4 linked regions of the Homo sapiens genome follow. The protein of the gene in region 4 interacts with the protein of the main gene of each other region in a pairwise test. Each region holds a gene or a part of one and is shown on either strand. Other genes may lie near its edges. The genes, in order: UBE3A, LMNA, UBE2N and NFX1.

Region 1 (4,628 bases), on a different chromosome or scaffold from region 4:
AGATAATATAAAAATCCTTATTTATGGCACGCTGTAAGATTATCAATATTGGTGCATATAACCACAGAGGCACAATAGAATTCTTAGGAAAAATGTATTAAGACAATTAACAAGCTGGAAATAACCCATATTTCCCCTTATGACCCATTAGCTTTATATAGAAAACACTGCTGTGCACTTCATCCTTTGCTTTCTAAAGAACAGCATTATGGTTCACATCTGTTAAGAGACAAAAAAGTATTTGTTGGAAGTACGAAAGGAAGAAATTCCTGTACTGTTACATGCAGTGCCAAAGGAATCATCTGAGAAGAAAATAAAGAACATGAGTTTAACATGAGCTTTAGAGAGGGATTACAAGAGTGCAAGAAAGTGACAAAATGTGACATATGTCCATAGTGAATACATGGTGCTTTATTGTTTTCAGTATTTCTATATTTAATTAGGAGGTGGAAAGTTTCAGAATTTATTCTGCATCACAAAGATTATAAAAATATATGAGTTGGGGTGTTGGCTACAGTACACAAAGGCAATTCTAAGACTACTTATTAACAGAAGCTTGAAATGGAAAAGCCATCCCTTCTGATTTCATTACATGAAAAGAACCTGTGTAGAAGTACAGCAATGGTAGCATCTTCATTCAGCCCACAGCTATGTAATTTGTATGCAAGAGTGCTTGTCTTAAATATGAAAAGGAACATCCTGAATTGCTGAAAGTATATACAACGGGCACACATCCAGAACTAGGAAAGAGCTACCAAGCCTGCATGCTACGAAGACATGGGTCAAAAAATTTTTCTCATGTTTGGTTTCTATAACTAAAGTCTGTGCTAGACTAACCTCAATTGATCCTGAGGAGATGAACTTCTGGAACACACAAAACTGTTAAGAGTCACAGCATTAGACTCTACACTGTCCAGCCAACAGTTTTAAGAAAAATTTTATCCTACTTGTATGAGTGTTCAGGGCTCATATACTACCTCTATGCTCTTACTTGAAACACAGATGCAGACCTTAATAAATAAAGTCTTACATCAGACTCTCTTCTATAATTCACATGTGATTCCTTACACGAGATTCCTGTTCAGATTTCCTGAAAATGAACTATAGGAATAATCTTATCCAATATGATTCTATGTCCCCTAAAAATATCTTTTCCTTTCAGGTCAATCTTATGATTCACTTGCCATTGATCAGATTAACACAACAGGTCTGGTACAGCAAATTACAAAAGAGATTTGACTTTTGATTAATACACTGAATAATGTATCACAAACTATTAAGATCCATTGTCCATGTCAAATGGAGTTCACATATTTAAAATGAATTCACACACTAAAAATTCCCCAAAACAACGTTTCTAAAAAGTTTTTTTTTTTTTCTTTGAGAGGCAGTCTCACTCTGTCGCCAGGCAGTAGCATGATCTTGGCTCACTGCAACCTCCGCCTCCCGTGTTCAAGCGTTTCCCCTGCCTCAGCCTCCTGAGTAGTTGGGACTACAGGCATGCGCCACCACGTCCGGCTAATTTTTTTTTTGTATTTTAGTAGAGATGAGGTTTCACCGTGTTGGCCAGGATGGTCTCGATCTCCTGATCTCGTGATCCGCCCGCCTCGGCTTCCCAAAGTGCTGGGATGACAGGCGTGAGCCATGGCACTTGGCCTCTAAAAAGCTCTTAATCTACATTTTCAAGAATGATCACGTTTGAAAAGCATACTCTTTTAAAACAAAGCAACTATCACTTTCATTTGACAAAAGAAGGAACGAAGGCTTCAAAAGCTAAATAACCTGCTCATGACCATTACGAAGCTAGTTAAAACAACCTCAAGACCAAAAGACAGTGCTCATTCCATTTCAATGACTCTGATGCACTTAAAATTTTATAAATAATTTTTAGGGATATCAGTCATAAGGCTTAGAATCAAATAGTAACGACTCATGTACAAAGACCAGTATTTTTTAAAAATGCTCAGCTGGGCATGGTAGCTCACACCTGTAATCCTAGCACCTTGGGAGGCCAAGCCGCTTGAGACCAGGAGTTTGAAACCAACCTGAACACGGCAAGACCCCATCTCCACAAAAAAATTAAAAAATAAAAAAATTAGCCAGGCATGGTGGCATATGCTAATCCCACCTACTCAGGAGGGTGAGATGGGAGGATCACTCCAGCCTGAGACTGCAATGAGTTATGACAGCACCACTGCACTCCAACTTGGGCAACACAGCGAGACCCTGTCTCTAAACAAATAAACAATAAGTAAAATAAACAAAAAGAAAATGCTAACTTTACTTCACTCTCAGATAGGCCTAATAATTAATAAGCTTCTTTTTGAATTATTATCCATAATGGCATTTACCTGTTATTGATAACTCAGATCAAAGCACTACTAAGCAACATTTTTGATAGCAAATGAAAACAAAAGCTGGCAAAGAAACTGTGTATTAATAAGTCATTTGATTAAAAAAAAGGACTTGGCCAGGTATTGTGGCTCATGCCTGTAATCCCAACACACTGGGAAGCTAAAGTAAAAGCTGAGGAGTTCAAGACCAGCCTGGGCAACACAGTGAGACCCCCATCTCTATAAAACAAAAATTTTTAATATTATCTTTTTACAAAGGACTTATTTATATGGCATCTTCAAGTATTTCAAACATTTCGTGTTTGGATTATGGAATATGTCTCCAGAAGAATTAACACTATTTCTATTTAAGGTAATTTTACATCATTTCCTTTATTAGAAGAAATAACAGATCTGCAGATGGCATTTTGTGAAGGCTGCCTTCTATTAATAGTGTACAAAACACTCATATGTCTCCAAAAAGGTGGGTGAGTAATCACAAAGCAAGTATAACTATTCATCCCAAAAGGTAGGACAGAACATGTGCCAATGTGTGCAGAGTCCTGAACTAGAGACATGGACTCTGGTTCTGGTTCTGACACCTGGGTGACTTTAAGAAAATCATTTTAAAGCTTTGCACTCCAATTTCCTCTTGTATAAAATGACTGGAGCAGCTGACCTCATAGACAATCCTACTCAGGTAGCATCTATCCATGTACTGCCAGAAGACAGAATGATAATCATGCCCCCCAAAATTAGAGTATTTGAAGACAACTGCCGGAGTAAAAATTTTAAATTCTATATACATACACACACACACACACACACACACACACACACACACACACACACACACACAAATACTAATACACTACGTGCCAGATACTGGGGTGGTGGGCTGGGACCAAGGAATGAAGTAATGCATGTGCCAGAGGGTTGAACTTTTTAAAAGGAGTAAAAAAGTAAATCTTTACAGTAGCAGCTGGTGGGTAGGAGGTATTGAGTCCATAGAACTGCTCTTAGATTGGAAGGGCATGGGAAAATGAAGTTCCATTATGTGATAGGGTTTTACACACACACACACACACACACACACACAAATGTGAGAAAGTCACTCAACTATAAGCATTCAAAAAAGACAGACATCTTTCTTGTCTTTGTGGGTCCTGTACTTAGCTCAGCTCATAGAAGCCACAGGAGGAACCTAATAAATGTTAGTTGATCATTTACTGATTTACCAATAACCAATTCATGCCTGCTCTAGTGCTGTGGTCTGAATGTGTCCCCCAAAATTCATGTTGAAAGCCTAACCTCCAAGGTGATAGTATTAAGAGGTGGGGCCTTTGGGAAGCTTTGCCATCATTAATGGAATTAATGCCTCTATAAAAGAGGCCCTATAGAGCCCCGTCTACTCTTCTACTACATGAGGTAATGGTGAAAAGACAGCTAGCTATCTATGAACAAGGGAAGAGGGCCCTCACTAAGATGTCAAATTTGTTGGTACCTTGATCTTGGACTTCTCAGCCCCCAGAACCGTGAGAAATAAACTTCTGTTGTTTATAAGCCATGCTGTCTGTGGTGTTTTGTAATAGCAGCCAGAACAGACTAAGACATCTAGTAACACATTCTCTGGTAAACACTAGGAATTCCTGGCCTTAAAAAGTTCATAGCTAATGAGAAAAGAAATAAACAACATAAAGGATAACATGCTGTAGTCCACTACATACAAGGTGCTTCCAGACCATTCAGAAAAACTGGATAGGAAGATTTCTAAGGTAATACTTATTGAGTGCCTACGTGTTAGGCGTTTTACATACTTTAAGCCTCACAACTCTGGGGAAGTTTCACCAACCCATTTTACAGATGACAAAACTGTGGCTTACCAAGATTAATAAGGCCAGAATTAAAATTAGGGTCTAATTCCAAAGATATTACCACTATACATACCAAGATGTCTTGTTACTACATTTTATCCTTACATTTGGCAGTGAGGGGAAAACTCAAAAAGCAGTCAAAAAACTTTTGTCCTGAACCAACATAAAAAGAGCACCTAAGACTTCATCCAGTATTTTACCGAAAGATCACTTCTAAAAGTTTGTCTTCACCCCGATCTAAAAATTAGAAAACTAATTTTCTTTCAGCAGCTGCATATGTACATAATGTAATGTTTCTACATTTAGACCTACACAATTATAAGTCTAAACAAAATATGTGTAACATGATTGGAGAACATAACTAGCAGTCATTTAAGAAAATGGACATTTGGAAACATCATTTCAAGAGCTTGGGATGAAA
Region 2 (3,500 bases), on a different chromosome or scaffold from region 4:
CGAGCATGTGGCACGTGCCTATAGTCCCAGCTTCTTGGGAGGCTGAGGTGGGAGGATCACTTGAGCCTGGGAGGTGGAGATTGCAGTAAGCCAAGATCATGCCACTGCACTCCAGCCTGGGCCAGGGAGCGAGACTGTCAAAAAAAAAAAAAAAAAAAAAAAAAGAATGGATTTGGTGGTGGAGGGTTGGAGAGGTAACACCAGGAGATACCCTCAGATAAAGCCCAGGGCCCATGCATCCTCAAAGGTCTCCAACCCCATTAACCTAATGGGTCTGCCAAAAGGCACAGCTTCCTTTCAATCCGGGTGGACAATTCCCATGACAAGTCTCAAGATAGTCTCAAGACAAGAATCACCAGCCTCCCAGAGCTCTGACCGTCTCACGATTGAGGGGCTGGCAGGGGTCCTGGGTCCAGGTATAGGCTGGAGCAAAGGCTATCGATCATATGCTAACAGGCCCTGCAGGACAGCAGAGTTTTGTTTTGTTTTTTTCTTTTTCAGAGACAGGGTCTTTCTCTCTCCCAGGCTAGAGTGCAGTAGTGCAGTCATAGCTCACAATAGCCTCAAACTCCTGGCTTCAGGTGATCCTCCCGCCTCAGCTTCCCAAGCAGCTGGACTACAGGTGTTGACCGGCTAATTTTTTTGTACAGAAGGGGGTCTTGCTATGTTGCCCAGACTGGTCTCAAACTCCTGGCCTCAAGTGATCCTCCTGCCTTAGCCTCCCAAAGCACTGGGATTACAGGCATGAGCCACGAAGTATGGCCATAGAGCACTAAGGTGTCACTGGCCCCAGAGCAGAGTTTCCAGGCTGCAGAAGTGAGCCTCAGCTACCTGACTTCACCTTACCTCACCCTCTAGATCCTCCCTCCAACCTGTCCCCCAAGCTAGAGAAGTGAGGCTTAATGGTAAGAGCACACCCAGCTGGAAGTCATAAGGCCTGTGATCAAGTGCTGACCCCTTTATTGTGTGACATGGGACAAGCATCTGTGCCTCTGTGGCCTTTGCTGTTCTTGTCTTGATCAGAGCCTACATGAACTGGAGCCTGCATCTCCCTGCCTGTCCACACTGGGGCTGCAACAGTGGGCAATCCAGGAAGTTGTCAAGCACCAGGGCCTTTTTGGAGTGGAAGTAGCGCTTCTGCTTTGTGGGCCTCGGATCTCCCCACTTCTGACTCAGCCTTCCTCCATCAGTTTCACATGGGAAGGCACAGACCCTGGCACTATCCTGCAGCCCAATCCATAACTCTGAACTCAACTCTGGATTCTAATTACTTGTGCATGTTACCTGTCCAGAGAGAGCTATGTGTCCAGACACCACCAGAGGGTCTCAGGAAGGAGCCAGGCAAGGGACTCCAGGATGCAATGGGGAGGGGGGCAGAAGAGGTAGACATTCAGACCACCACTCCTCCCTTTAAGACAACTGCTGTCTCCACCCTGTCTCCTGCTGTCTTCTGTAAAGCCACCAGGGTGGGAGGGAGGGGGGCAGCATCTGAGTCATCCACCCAGCTGCCTTGCCTGGGGTGGGGCCCAGCTGCAAGCCTGGACTCCAGACAGGCTTCCCTGGTGCTTACAACCTTCCCATTCTGCCTGCACTTGGGTATCCAAATCCCTTGGGCTACAGACTAGAAAGAGACAGAGAAGGGGCAGGGGGTACCAGGTGCGGTAGCTCATGCCTATACATCCCAGCACTTTGGGAGGCCAAGGCCAAGGCAGGTGGATTACTTGAGCCTAGGAGTTCGAGACCAGCTTGGGCAACACGGTGAAACCCCATCTCTACAAAATATATAAAAATTAGTGGCCGGGTACGGTGGCTCACACCTGTAATCCCAGCACTTTGGGAGGCCAAGGTGGACGGATCACGAGGTCAAGAGATCAAGACCATCCTGGCCAACATGGTGAAACCCCAACTCTACTAAAAATACAAAAATTAACTGGGCGTGATGGCATGTGCCTGTAGTCCCAGCTACTCGGGAGGCTGAGGCAGGAGAATCGCTTGAACCTGGGAGGTGGAGGTTGCAATGAGCCGAGATCGCACCACTGCACTCCAGCCTGGCAACAGAACAAGACTCCGTCTCAAAAAAAAAAAAAGAAAAAAAAAATTAGCTGGGCATGGTGGCACACACTTGTAATCCCAGCTACTCAGGAGGCTGAGGTGGGAGAATCACCAGAGCCTGTGAGGCTGACGTTGCAGTGAGCTGTGATCATGCCACTGCACCCCAGCCTGGGCAACAGAACAAGACCCTGTCTCAAAAAAAGAAGAGAGAGAGAGTATTGGCGAAAGGGGTTTCTTCTTGGAGCCTATAATCCAGCCCAACAGAAGGTCCCCCAAACTCCTGAGTGTGGTTGAGGTACCCAGGCTGGGTCAAAAATTGCTACAGGGTCTTAAAAACAACTTTCCATCCCAACTCCAAATCTGGCCCTGAACTCTGAGCTCTAATTAAACATTAAACCAGACAACACCTTCTCTCTAGGCTTTGGTGGGAGGGGTTGGGAAAATGCCTTTTTTCCTCTCCCAAATTCTTTACTCTACCCACTTCTCTACCTCACTCTGAGCACAGCAGACCCAGCAGGGAGTAACCAATCCTGGCTCCTCCTACTGTGGGCATAGAAGAGGACAGACACCCCAGTCTGAGTCCCCTTTGTCTTCACCCCACTTTCTATCAGCTTGGGATCCAGGTGTGCAAATCCACCTCTCTTTTCCGGAAGCCCAGCCTTTCCAGCCAGGATCAGTGGGGGAGAACAGAGGGAGGTGGCTAAATATAACAAGTACACACACCACCTCCGCCCTGCCCCACATGCGCACATACCCGCCTGGTGTCCCAGGCCTGGACAGCTGCACTAGGAGGCAGAGGAGACAAACTGGCGTGGCTGGGTGAGCAAGAGAATATCGAATCCACTCAATCTGTTTCTCGATCAAAGTTTTGACCAGAAAACTGCTAAAACTGCTAAAAATGTCCTTCACAGGGCTTTGGTAGATGAGTGGACTAGTTTAGAATGCAACGAATTCTCTGGGTCTCCCCTTCCTTGCTTCCTATCTGTCTTGCTAACTAAATTGTTCATATCACTAGTAGAAAAAAGACAGGCCTGGCGTCAGGCCTGGTGGCTTATGCCTGTAATCCCAGTGCTTCCGGAGGCCGAGGCAGGAGGATTGCTTGAGGCCAAAACTTCGGAACCAGCTGAGCAACATAGCAAGTTTCCATCTTTACAAACAAAAAGCAAAAAAAAAAAAAAAAAAAAAAAAATTAGCCAAGCGTGGTGGTGCCTGCCCTTAGTCTCAGCTATTCCGGAAGGTGAGACGGTAGGATCGCTTGAGCCCAGGAGGAGTTCCAGGCTGCAGCAAGTTATGATTGTACCATTGCACTCTAGCCTGAGCAACAGGGCAAGGCCCTGTCTCTGAAAAATATAATAAAAATAAAGAAAAGGACAGGTGTGGTCTCTTTCAGCAGAATGAACCCAGGAGTTCAAGACTGTGGGCAACATGGCAAAACCCCATCTCTACAA
Region 3 (4,628 bases), on a different chromosome or scaffold from region 4:
CCAGCCTGATCAACATGGAGAAATCCCATCTCTACTAAAAATACAAAATCAGCCGGGCATGGTGGCACGTGCCTGTAATCCCAGCTACTCGGGAGGCTGAGGCAGGAGAATCATTTGAAGCCAGGAGGCGGAGGTTGCAGTGAGCTGAGATCGTGCCATTGCACTCCAGCCTGGGTGACAGGGCGAGACTCCATCTCAAAAAAAGTCTGGGCATGGTGGCTCACACCTGTAATCCCAGCATTTTGGGAGGCCGAGGCGGGTGGATCGGCTCAGGTCAGGAGTTCGAGACCAGCCTGATCAACATGGAGAAATCCCACCTCTACTAAAAATATAAAATTAGCTAGGCATGGTGGCGCATGCCTGTAATCCCAGCTACTTGGGAGGCTGAGGCAGGAGAATCGCTTGAACCCCGGAGGTGGAGGTTGCGGTGAGCCCCGATCATGCCATTGCTCTCCAGCCTAGGCAAAAGAGCGAAGCTCCGTCTCAAAAAAAAAAAAAAAAAAAAAAAGTCATAGTCCTTGTAATGGGCCCCCAAAAGACGCTCTATATGATGCCCTCACTCCACCTACCTCTCTGACTTATCTTCAGCTGTTCTCTCTCCATCCCCTAACCTTCTCTGTTCCAGACAAAAATTAGCTTCCTTGTAGTTCTTCAACGTGCCAGGCATCCGCTCACCTCAAGGGCTTTGTACTTCCTCTTCCTCCCCAAGATATCCATATGGCTTGCTCCCTCAGCTCCTAAGATCTTCATGTTTTCTCAGTGAAGCCATCATAACTGAAATTGCAAACCCCATTCAACCCTACCCTGCACACTCCCTATCCCCACTCCCTGGCTTTATCTCCACAGCACTACTAACAAATCTCATTTCTACTTATTTTGTTCAGAATTTAAGCTCCATGAGAGGATGGATTTGAGTCTATTTTATGGACTGCTATATCCTCAGCATTTGGAACACTGCCTGGCACAATAGATATTCAATTAATATTTACTGAATTCTGAATCTATTTGATGTTATGAAAAGAGGGAAATAAACGATCAGAATTTCATCGTTAACATCATTAAGGCAGGGTTATTTTCAAGGCAGGATGTGCACATTATGGAAGGAAAACAAAAGGAGCCACTCAGGTATGGGGAAAAATAGTCTAACTTCTACTTATATTTATTTTTAACCAGAAAAATGTTCATATTTAAATAAGCTTTTAGGTATGAAAAACAATAAATGAGAACATTTTATTTACACTGCCTTCACCTAAAAAAAAATACATCATAAACTGTTTCATTCCACAAGCTACAGGGCATACGTTAAAAACAACAACAACAAATAACTTCTCTCTCAGCACAGTAATATACTGAAATAGTCATAAGATGTAAATACAAATCAAATGCTTCCCCAAAATGTGTTAATTAAACCCATGGCCATTTTAGGTAATGTCTCTGGTATTTTAAGACTAGTTTTTTGTTTTGATCATGGCGATGTAAGAGCAAGTGAGAAACTGACATGTTCTTTAGGTTCAAACTAAAACATTTTTAGAGTATTAAAAAGCTCAAGAGGCAATAATGAAGCCTCTGACCTTGGGAAGTCCTTTAACATGTGACCAGAACAAAAGAGGCTGGTCTTCATTTTTTAGGAAAAAAGTTAAGATATTAGGGATGAATAGCAGGAGTAGAAAAATGAGAAAATAACTGGATGGTAAAATTCCTTGAATTCTGGGCTCTCCTCACCTCCATCCTTTAATTTTACCCCAGGTCTTCATGTTTTTAGAAAGCCATAAATTGGGTGACTGGAAAAAAAAGAAAGCCAGGGCCCAAGAGTCCCAATCCACCACTCACCAGTTACACAAAGTAGTAGCAGCTCTGTATCTACTATAAAAAGCTACAGAAAGGCCTCCAAAAGCGTATCCCAAAATAGCTTCAAAATCACTCTCAATACACAGTGGCAGAGATAGGTATGGCATTTACTTTCTCATCTTCAGTTCACCCTCAAAATCAGATATTCTTTGTAAAGAATGTACATATTAAGCACATCATGTGACCTGATCAAGCCTAGATTTAATTGGAACACATTCTAAAATAAGCTTTCGTGTGTAGAAAACATTTTGAAATAGTCCTTATAATATATGCTGCTCTCAAGTTCTAATGGACTGACACAAAAACATGCATAATTATTTCACTAAACTGTTGGTTTCCCTAACAAACCCACAGCATAAACTGTGGGAGGGGAAAAAAGGAATAAAATCCAAACTAAATGAAACAAGTCTGAAATGGCAGCATCTGAAAAAGTCTCAACCACAGAAACTGATGTCAACTTTTTTCCTAAAAAGGCAAAAACTGGCTAGGAAATAAAATCTTTCCGGCCACTATTCAACACATGACTAACTAAAATACCTTCTGGTTTTACACTATTCTTTGGTGGAAAGACAGAGTACAGTATGATTTCTTTAAGTGAAGAAGTAAAGGGCTAAAATTCCTACTGTTTCACTTATCTATCTTTTTTTTTTTTTTTGAGACAAGTCTCGCTCTCTTGCCCAGGCTGCAGTGCAGTGGCACGATCTTGGCTCACTGCAACCTCTGCCTCCTGGGTCCAAGTGAGCACCTGGCTAATTTTTGTATTTTTAGCAGAGACAGGGTTTCACCATGTTAGCCAGGCAGGTCTCGAACTCCTGACTTAAAGTGATCTGCCCGCCTCAGCCTCCCAAAGTGCTGGGATTGTAAGCGTGAGGCACCACGCCCGGCCTTATCTATCTTTTGGCACAAATAATTTACATTGCAGGTGGGATGCCATGGTTCACACCTGTAATCCCTGCACTTTGGGAGGCTGAGGCAGGCAGGGGAATCACTTGAGGCTAGGAGTTCCAGACCAAGCTGGGCAAGCATAGTGAGACCCCATCACTACCAAAAAAAAAAAAAAAAAAAAGTTGACAAATGAGATCACATAGGAAGGCCATAGTTGTTTACAGAAAAACAGAATAACCCTTAAATGAATTTTGTGATTCTATTATGTTTAAAAGCAGTCCAAGGATTGAATCCCAAACAGAAGTGAGTTTAGGGCCATGCATAATAGAAAGCACTGTAGACTATGTTCAGGAAATTAGTTAATGTAGACTATGTTCAGGAAGTTAGTTACTAAAATAGACAGGTAAGTTGGTAAAGGAATAGGGTATGGATTTAAATGTCCACAAAATTAAGTCTAAAGGAAGGTATCTCATCTTATAGAACGCATACAATAGTTAATGCTACAAATATTTTTAAAAGGAATCAAATATCACATCAAATTGATCTAATTATCAACAGATCTACTGGGTCTTGAAGAGCAAACCCTAGACTCACACTACTGTAAACTATACTGTAGTTAGTCAATTATAACAACTGACATTCTGTCAACCTATCTCTATTAACCAGGACTCTTATTTTTAAGTTGAAAAATAATTTGTGCTCAGTACGAAGCAATGACAGGTCTTAGATGCTCTTCTGCAAGGCAATGATTGGAGTATGTACAGTAAAATTTTGGGGTAATAAACAGTATTCTTAGAAAAAGTGCTAATTTGTGTGTGAGAAAAGTTGGTCCAGTTAGTAACTATCTATATCCCAGTGCATCCTGTCTACAGTGATTAGGTTTTTTAGAATATTCTCTGAAACACAAAATTGCAATATATGACCAGTAATATCAACTGTAGATCTTTTAGCTCATCTCAAACAAGAGCTGTCTGATAACTCAGTAACTGCCAATTTCATTACTGAAAAATAAGTGTTAAAAAACTGAGTGATGCTTCAATGATACCTACTCTGTAAACTCCAACCTGTCACTACATCTTTAAGCGATTCTAAAATATTAACAAACAGGGTTCTGGACAAAGTTGTGTGTTATAGAAAAAAAATTTAAATAAAGAAAAAAATTATGAAAAATTTGTAAGATAAAACAAACGGGCTCCTTTTTTGGGATCACTAATAAAGCAAGTCAATTCTTCATTATGTACACAACTGTAAGTTACTTATGAGAATCTGCAAGTTCACCCTCTATATATATAAGTGGGCATTTTTATTTATCACTTTTTTTGTAGAGATGGGTTTCTCTATGTTGCCCAGGCTGGTCTCCTGCCTCAAGCAATCTTCCCGCCCTGGCCTCCCAAAGCAATGGGATGACAGACGTGAGCCACCACACTTGGCCCAATAAGTGAGCATTTAAAAAATGTTACCACCAGCCTGGGCAACATAGCAAGACCCCATCTCTGCAAACCAAAAAACTAAAAAAATTAGCTGGGCATGCTGGCATATGACTATAGTCCTAGCGTACTTGGGAGGTTGAGGTGGGAGTACTGCCTGAGCCCAGGAGTTCAAGGTTACAGTTAGCTGTGATCATACCACTGCACCCCAGCCTGGGCGATAGTGAGACCTTGTCTCTTAAAAACAAAACAAAACAAAACAAAAAGTTAATTATCATCAATGGACATTTTCAAGTGCATACCCCTTGCTTCATTTTATCTGTAAGCCCTGTGAATTTTACTACATGATTTTGTATAACATAACATTCTTAGAAACATATAATGTCTCATTATAGTAAAACTGACTGCCTATTTTCTAGCTGGGATTAGAAATAGAACCAAAGTTTTGCTCAAGCTCCCCATTACACT
Region 4 (4,628 bases):
GATGGCTGGGTTTAAGATAACATGTGTGATTCCGGATATGGTATACCAATTCATTATTTGGTATTTCAGACTAAAAAATTCATTTGTGCTCCTAAAGATTTTGATCAGTTTGGGTAAAGCAAGCAATGTCTGTCTGATGTTTCAGGCATTTTCAGGAGGACAAATAACTGGGACAACTGAGGCTATGACTTAGTGGCATAAAGTTGGTTTCAGGCTAAAAGTTTGGTTTGTCCAAATAAAGCCCAATAGTCCCTCAACTCTCAGAGCAATCACAGTGATGGTGTAAAGAGCCTCTTTGAATGCGTGATTGCATACCTAGTGACCATACAATCAGAGATCTGGTCATAATGAAACACTTTATACAGACAGGAATAGACAAGGGATTTCTGACACACTCATGCTTTGGATGTGTCAGTACAAGACAGTATGTGAGACTGTGATTCTGCCAGGCAGAGGGGAACGGGCATGATTTATCTGCTGGCAAATAAGTCTCCACTATACCTAATCATTCTTTTATCTAAGTGCATCATGATCTTCTTAGTCCTGGACGTCAAAATAGTCAATTATTGGCTCCTTGGTTATTTTCTGTAAATTACTGCTCCCAGGATTCCTGAAAAACAAACAAAGAATGATCAGTCTTTTCTTCTTTGGGGGAAACAGATACAGGACTTCAGAAAGTTAAGGATCAGCTGATTTACCATTTGTGAATCTTAAACATTTATTTTATTTTTATTTTAGTCTTACTTTTTTTCCTTCTGCCCTTTGTGAGCAATTTTTTTAACTTTTGTGTTTCCTTCTAGATTTACATATTACATGGGGAATTTTATTCTGTGAGATAACAAATTCTCTATTTACACTTTACAGTTTAGAGGTAACCTTTCACAATCTATTTACAGGATTTCATATATGATGATGATTTTACTCTGCCTTCACAGTTCAATGAATGCTCAGTTAACAGCTTAAGCCAAGCGAGCATCTCACTTGTGAAGTTTTGATAGTGGGACAAACATGAGCTGGTGATTTTGAAATTTGGTAATGGGCACATGGGCATTTATGATAGTAATACTATTCTCTCTACTCTAAAACATTTCCATAATAGAGTTTTATACAAAAATAAAGCAAGCCAAGGGTTTTTAAAAAGATAGCATGGGATGGCCAGGTGTGGTGGCTCACGCCTGTAATCTCAGCACTTTGGGAGGCCAAGGCGGACGGATCACGAGGTCAGGAGATTGAGACCATCCTAACACATGGTGAAACCCCGTTTCTACTAAAAATACAAAAAATTAGCCGGGCGTGGTGGCAGGCGCCTGTAGTCCCAGCTACTCAGGAGGCTGAGGCAGGAGAATGGCATGAACCCGGGAGGCGGAGCTTGCAGTGAGCTGAGATCGCGCCACTGCACTCCAGCCTGGGCGGCAGAGCGAGACTCCATCTCAAAAAAAAAGAAAAAAAGAAAAAAGATAGCATGGGATAAACGGGCCAATAACTCCACATGGTTGTGTCTAAGCAGGACTGGACCCGACTCTGGCAGTTTCTGAGAAAACCCCTCATGTTTCCAAAGTGACCGCCCATATGGATTTGCAGACTGTGCTGACCAGAACCTAGGACACCTGGCTCCCAGGAGTGGAGAGGGGCTGGTCCTGGGGACCAGGACGCTCTTGGCTGAGTCTGAGCTCAATGGGCAACACCTAGCTGTCTTCTTGTCCAGTCCCACAGGAACACTAAGTGCTGTGACCTTCATGGTGACCTTGTGAACTGCCGTAACCACCCTTCAGAGGTTTTGTGCAGGAATCACAGAGGAGGTACTGCTAGGACTTGTCTGTGGAAAGCCAGAACAGGAGTAGGCACCCCTCTCCTTCTGGGCTTTGAAGTAACTTTTAGCCACACTGCCTTGGTTACACTAGGGCAGCAGAGAAGGAGCACCATCCTGCCTTCCCTTCCTCTCCCTGACAAGTGACAAACAACTGGGACAACTGGGGCTATGACCAAGTGCTCTAAAGTTGGTTTCAGCCCACAATTCTGGTTTCTCCAAATAAAGCCCAACAGTCACCCAACTCTCAGAGCTCCTTCCCTGCTCCTGTCTGAGAAAACATCTGGCAGACTTGCCCCTTGCCAACTTGGTTTTCTTTTCTCTTTAAATCATGAATATGTTTGTTATAAAAATTATTCAAACCATATAGAAGCAGACAGAGCAAAACAAGAAAGTACTATCCACCCCCGTCACCGGCAATTCTCACCCCCACACCCACTTGCATCTTCAGAGTAACTATTCTTTTTTTTTTGAGATGGAGTCTGTCTCTCTGTCGCCCAGGGTGGAGTGCAGTGGTGCGATCTCGGCTCACTGCAACCTCTGCCTCCAAGGTTCAAGTGATTCTCTTGCCTCAGTCTCCCAAGTAGCTGTGTTTACAGGTGCCCGCCACCACACCCGGCTACTTTTTTATATTTTTAGTAGAGATGGGTTTTCACCTTGTTGGCCAGGCTGGTCTCGAACTCCTGACCTTAAGTGATCCACCCGCCTTGGCCTCCCAAAGTGCTGGGATTACAGGCGTGAGCCACCGCGCCCGGCCCAGAGTAACTATTCCTAACTACACGATGTTTCAGTCTTAAACTATCTGGTATGACAGACTGAATCCACTTCCCAGTGTCACCATCTACACCATGGAAATTATGTCCAGTGACTGCTCTCTCTAGAATCAAGCACTACAAACAACAAACTTAGGACCCCTCTGGTGGGAACAAACGTGTCTGATACCCTAACTAAACATTACATATTTGAACATGGTACCCCAAGGCCAGGCCTGAGGAGGCCACCAATGGCTGGTGCAGCTCAGGACAATTCAGCCCCTGCTAGCTTTTCTGGACAGACAGGTCCCCTTGGAAAGCAGCTGGAGAATCTTACTTGTCTGACTGATGTCTGTGATGAGGAATCGGTGGTGGAGGCCGTGCCTGCATTTCCCTTTCAAGCACACCTGTCAGCGTGGTAGGAGGACAAACGGACTTCCCCCTGATAAAAGTCAAAACACCAAGCATTGAAAAGTGAGAATTGTTTGTGGAGATGGACAGAAAGCTAGAAACTCAGCCCTTGATTTTGGCACTATGACACTACTGAGCACTCTCTGGTATGAACTGTCTGCTCTCAGACATGGCCACCTGCATTTAACCCCCTGTCCCTTCCACCCACCTATGCCAGGCCCGTGGCTTGCTTCATGTCAGACTTGTTTTCTTCACTGGCAAGTTCTTCCTATTCCCAGGTTCTGAGAGTGATCCTAGGTCCTCCCTGTCCCCTCCTGGTCACATTATTGCTTCAGTTTCCTCTGATGGCAAAAACACCATTCACAGGGGATGCCTCGAACCAGAGTCCAGCATTCTTTCTGTTTTCCCCATGCCAAGAGGACAGAGCCAAGGAGAGGACAGACAGAGGAACAGGAGACAGAAGGAGAAAAGAGCAGATATGATGGGCAGGCCCCCTTGCCTGAAGAAATGCTGCTTCCAGCATCTGCTATGACTGTAGGCAGATGTGACACTTGTGCATTTTGAGTGCATCTGCCCTGTGGGTCGAGGCATAGGTTTTGCTCTTTGGCTCAGGCCTTTAGATTATCTGGGAAGTGCCAGAGAAGCAGATTTTCCTTCTACTTTTCCAAGAGGGAGAGTGGTAGTAAGAAAGACAAGTATTGACAGACCCTGCTTCTTGGGTCCAGTTTGCCCTGCTTAGGAGTTCTTCCTCTGACGGCGGGATTGACCTACCTGATGGCAGTGACCACCACATTGCGCTTCGGTTCACTGTCATAGCTCACGCTCTCCAGGCCATAAACTTGGGCCAAGTCATGGATGATCCGGCGGTGGTCTCTGTTCATGGGAGGGAAGCTGTGGCTTTTCTTACTATTCTTTCCCTGTATTGAGGGAAAAGATGACTGATTGATCATATCATTCTGAAAACAAAATGCTTACAACTAATCTTACCACACAAGAATTGCAGGGATCAATAAGAGGTGATTTTAGAGGCCCACAGCATAGAGCATTTTACTAACTGCCAAGCAAGCCTGGAGGGGTTTGGGAAGATGGGCACTGATGCACTTCTTTCACCTACTCTGTGAGCCACAACAGTCGCAGCTGGACAGGGTTAGGGACAAAGGGTAAGTGAACTGCGACTTAGGTAGACAGCATAATGGTTCTTCCTGATGGGTTCCATAACTGGGGAGTGGGTGATATTCCCCAAAAATGACTAAAGACTTACAAAACAAGAAAATATTATTTCCTTTAAAAGTATGTTCTACTTTAAAAATCGTGAGTATTCAGATACAGACACACAAGCAGAGAAACACATCTGTTGGGGTTTCTTAATTAGGAGAGGAATAATGCATTCCATTTTCTCCTTCATGTTAATATTCTGCTGGGAAGTGGTAACAGAAGGGAGGAAAGGAGGGGAATGGGAAGAGGGTAAGGAGACTGGGAAGGAAAACCACCAGCATTAGATACAGGGGCTAAAGCAACCATCTTGTCCTTACTCACCGTCCCCCCTGATGGAAGGGGGAGGAAGCCAATGCAGCGCTGGGGGCTTCTGACTAAACTCAAGACTTTTCCACTTAAAGCTACCTCCGTGACATCCCTGGCCGCCTCCAGGACAGGGGTCT

What was found.
Region 1: the proteins of NFX1 (region 4) and UBE3A interact in a two-hybrid assay, tested with the Homo sapiens proteins (one study listed by BioGRID).
Region 2: the proteins of NFX1 (region 4) and LMNA interact in binary tests that used the Homo sapiens proteins (3 or more experiments, as listed by UniProt).
Region 3: the proteins of NFX1 (region 4) and UBE2N interact in a two-hybrid assay, tested with the Homo sapiens proteins (one large-scale study listed by BioGRID and IntAct).

The regions. Positions count from the first base shown.
Region 1 is NC_000015.10:25,431,829-25,436,456, forward strand, and holds part of UBE3A (ubiquitin-protein ligase E3A), read right to left. Parts: intron 1-4,628. UniProt on the Homo sapiens protein: E3 ubiquitin-protein ligase which accepts ubiquitin from an E2 ubiquitin-conjugating enzyme in the form of a thioester and transfers it to its substrates.
Region 2 is NC_000001.11:156,117,711-156,121,210, reverse strand, and holds part of LMNA (lamin), read right to left. Parts: intron 1-3,500.
Region 3 is NC_000012.12:93,413,964-93,418,591, forward strand, and holds part of UBE2N (ubiquitin-conjugating enzyme E2 N), read right to left. Parts: intron 1-4,628. UniProt on the Homo sapiens protein: The UBE2V1-UBE2N and UBE2V2-UBE2N heterodimers catalyze the synthesis of non-canonical 'Lys-63'-linked polyubiquitin chains. This type of polyubiquitination does not lead to protein degradation by the proteasome.
Region 4 is NC_000009.12:33,365,888-33,370,515, reverse strand, and holds part of NFX1 (transcriptional repressor NF-X1), read right to left. Parts: intron 3,888-4,628; coding exon 3,742-3,887; intron 3,002-3,741; coding exon 2,897-3,001; intron 611-2,896; coding exon 538-610; 3' UTR 1-537. UniProt on the Homo sapiens protein: Binds to the X-box motif of MHC class II genes and represses their expression. May play an important role in regulating the duration of an inflammatory response by limiting the period in which MHC class II molecules are induced by interferon-gamma.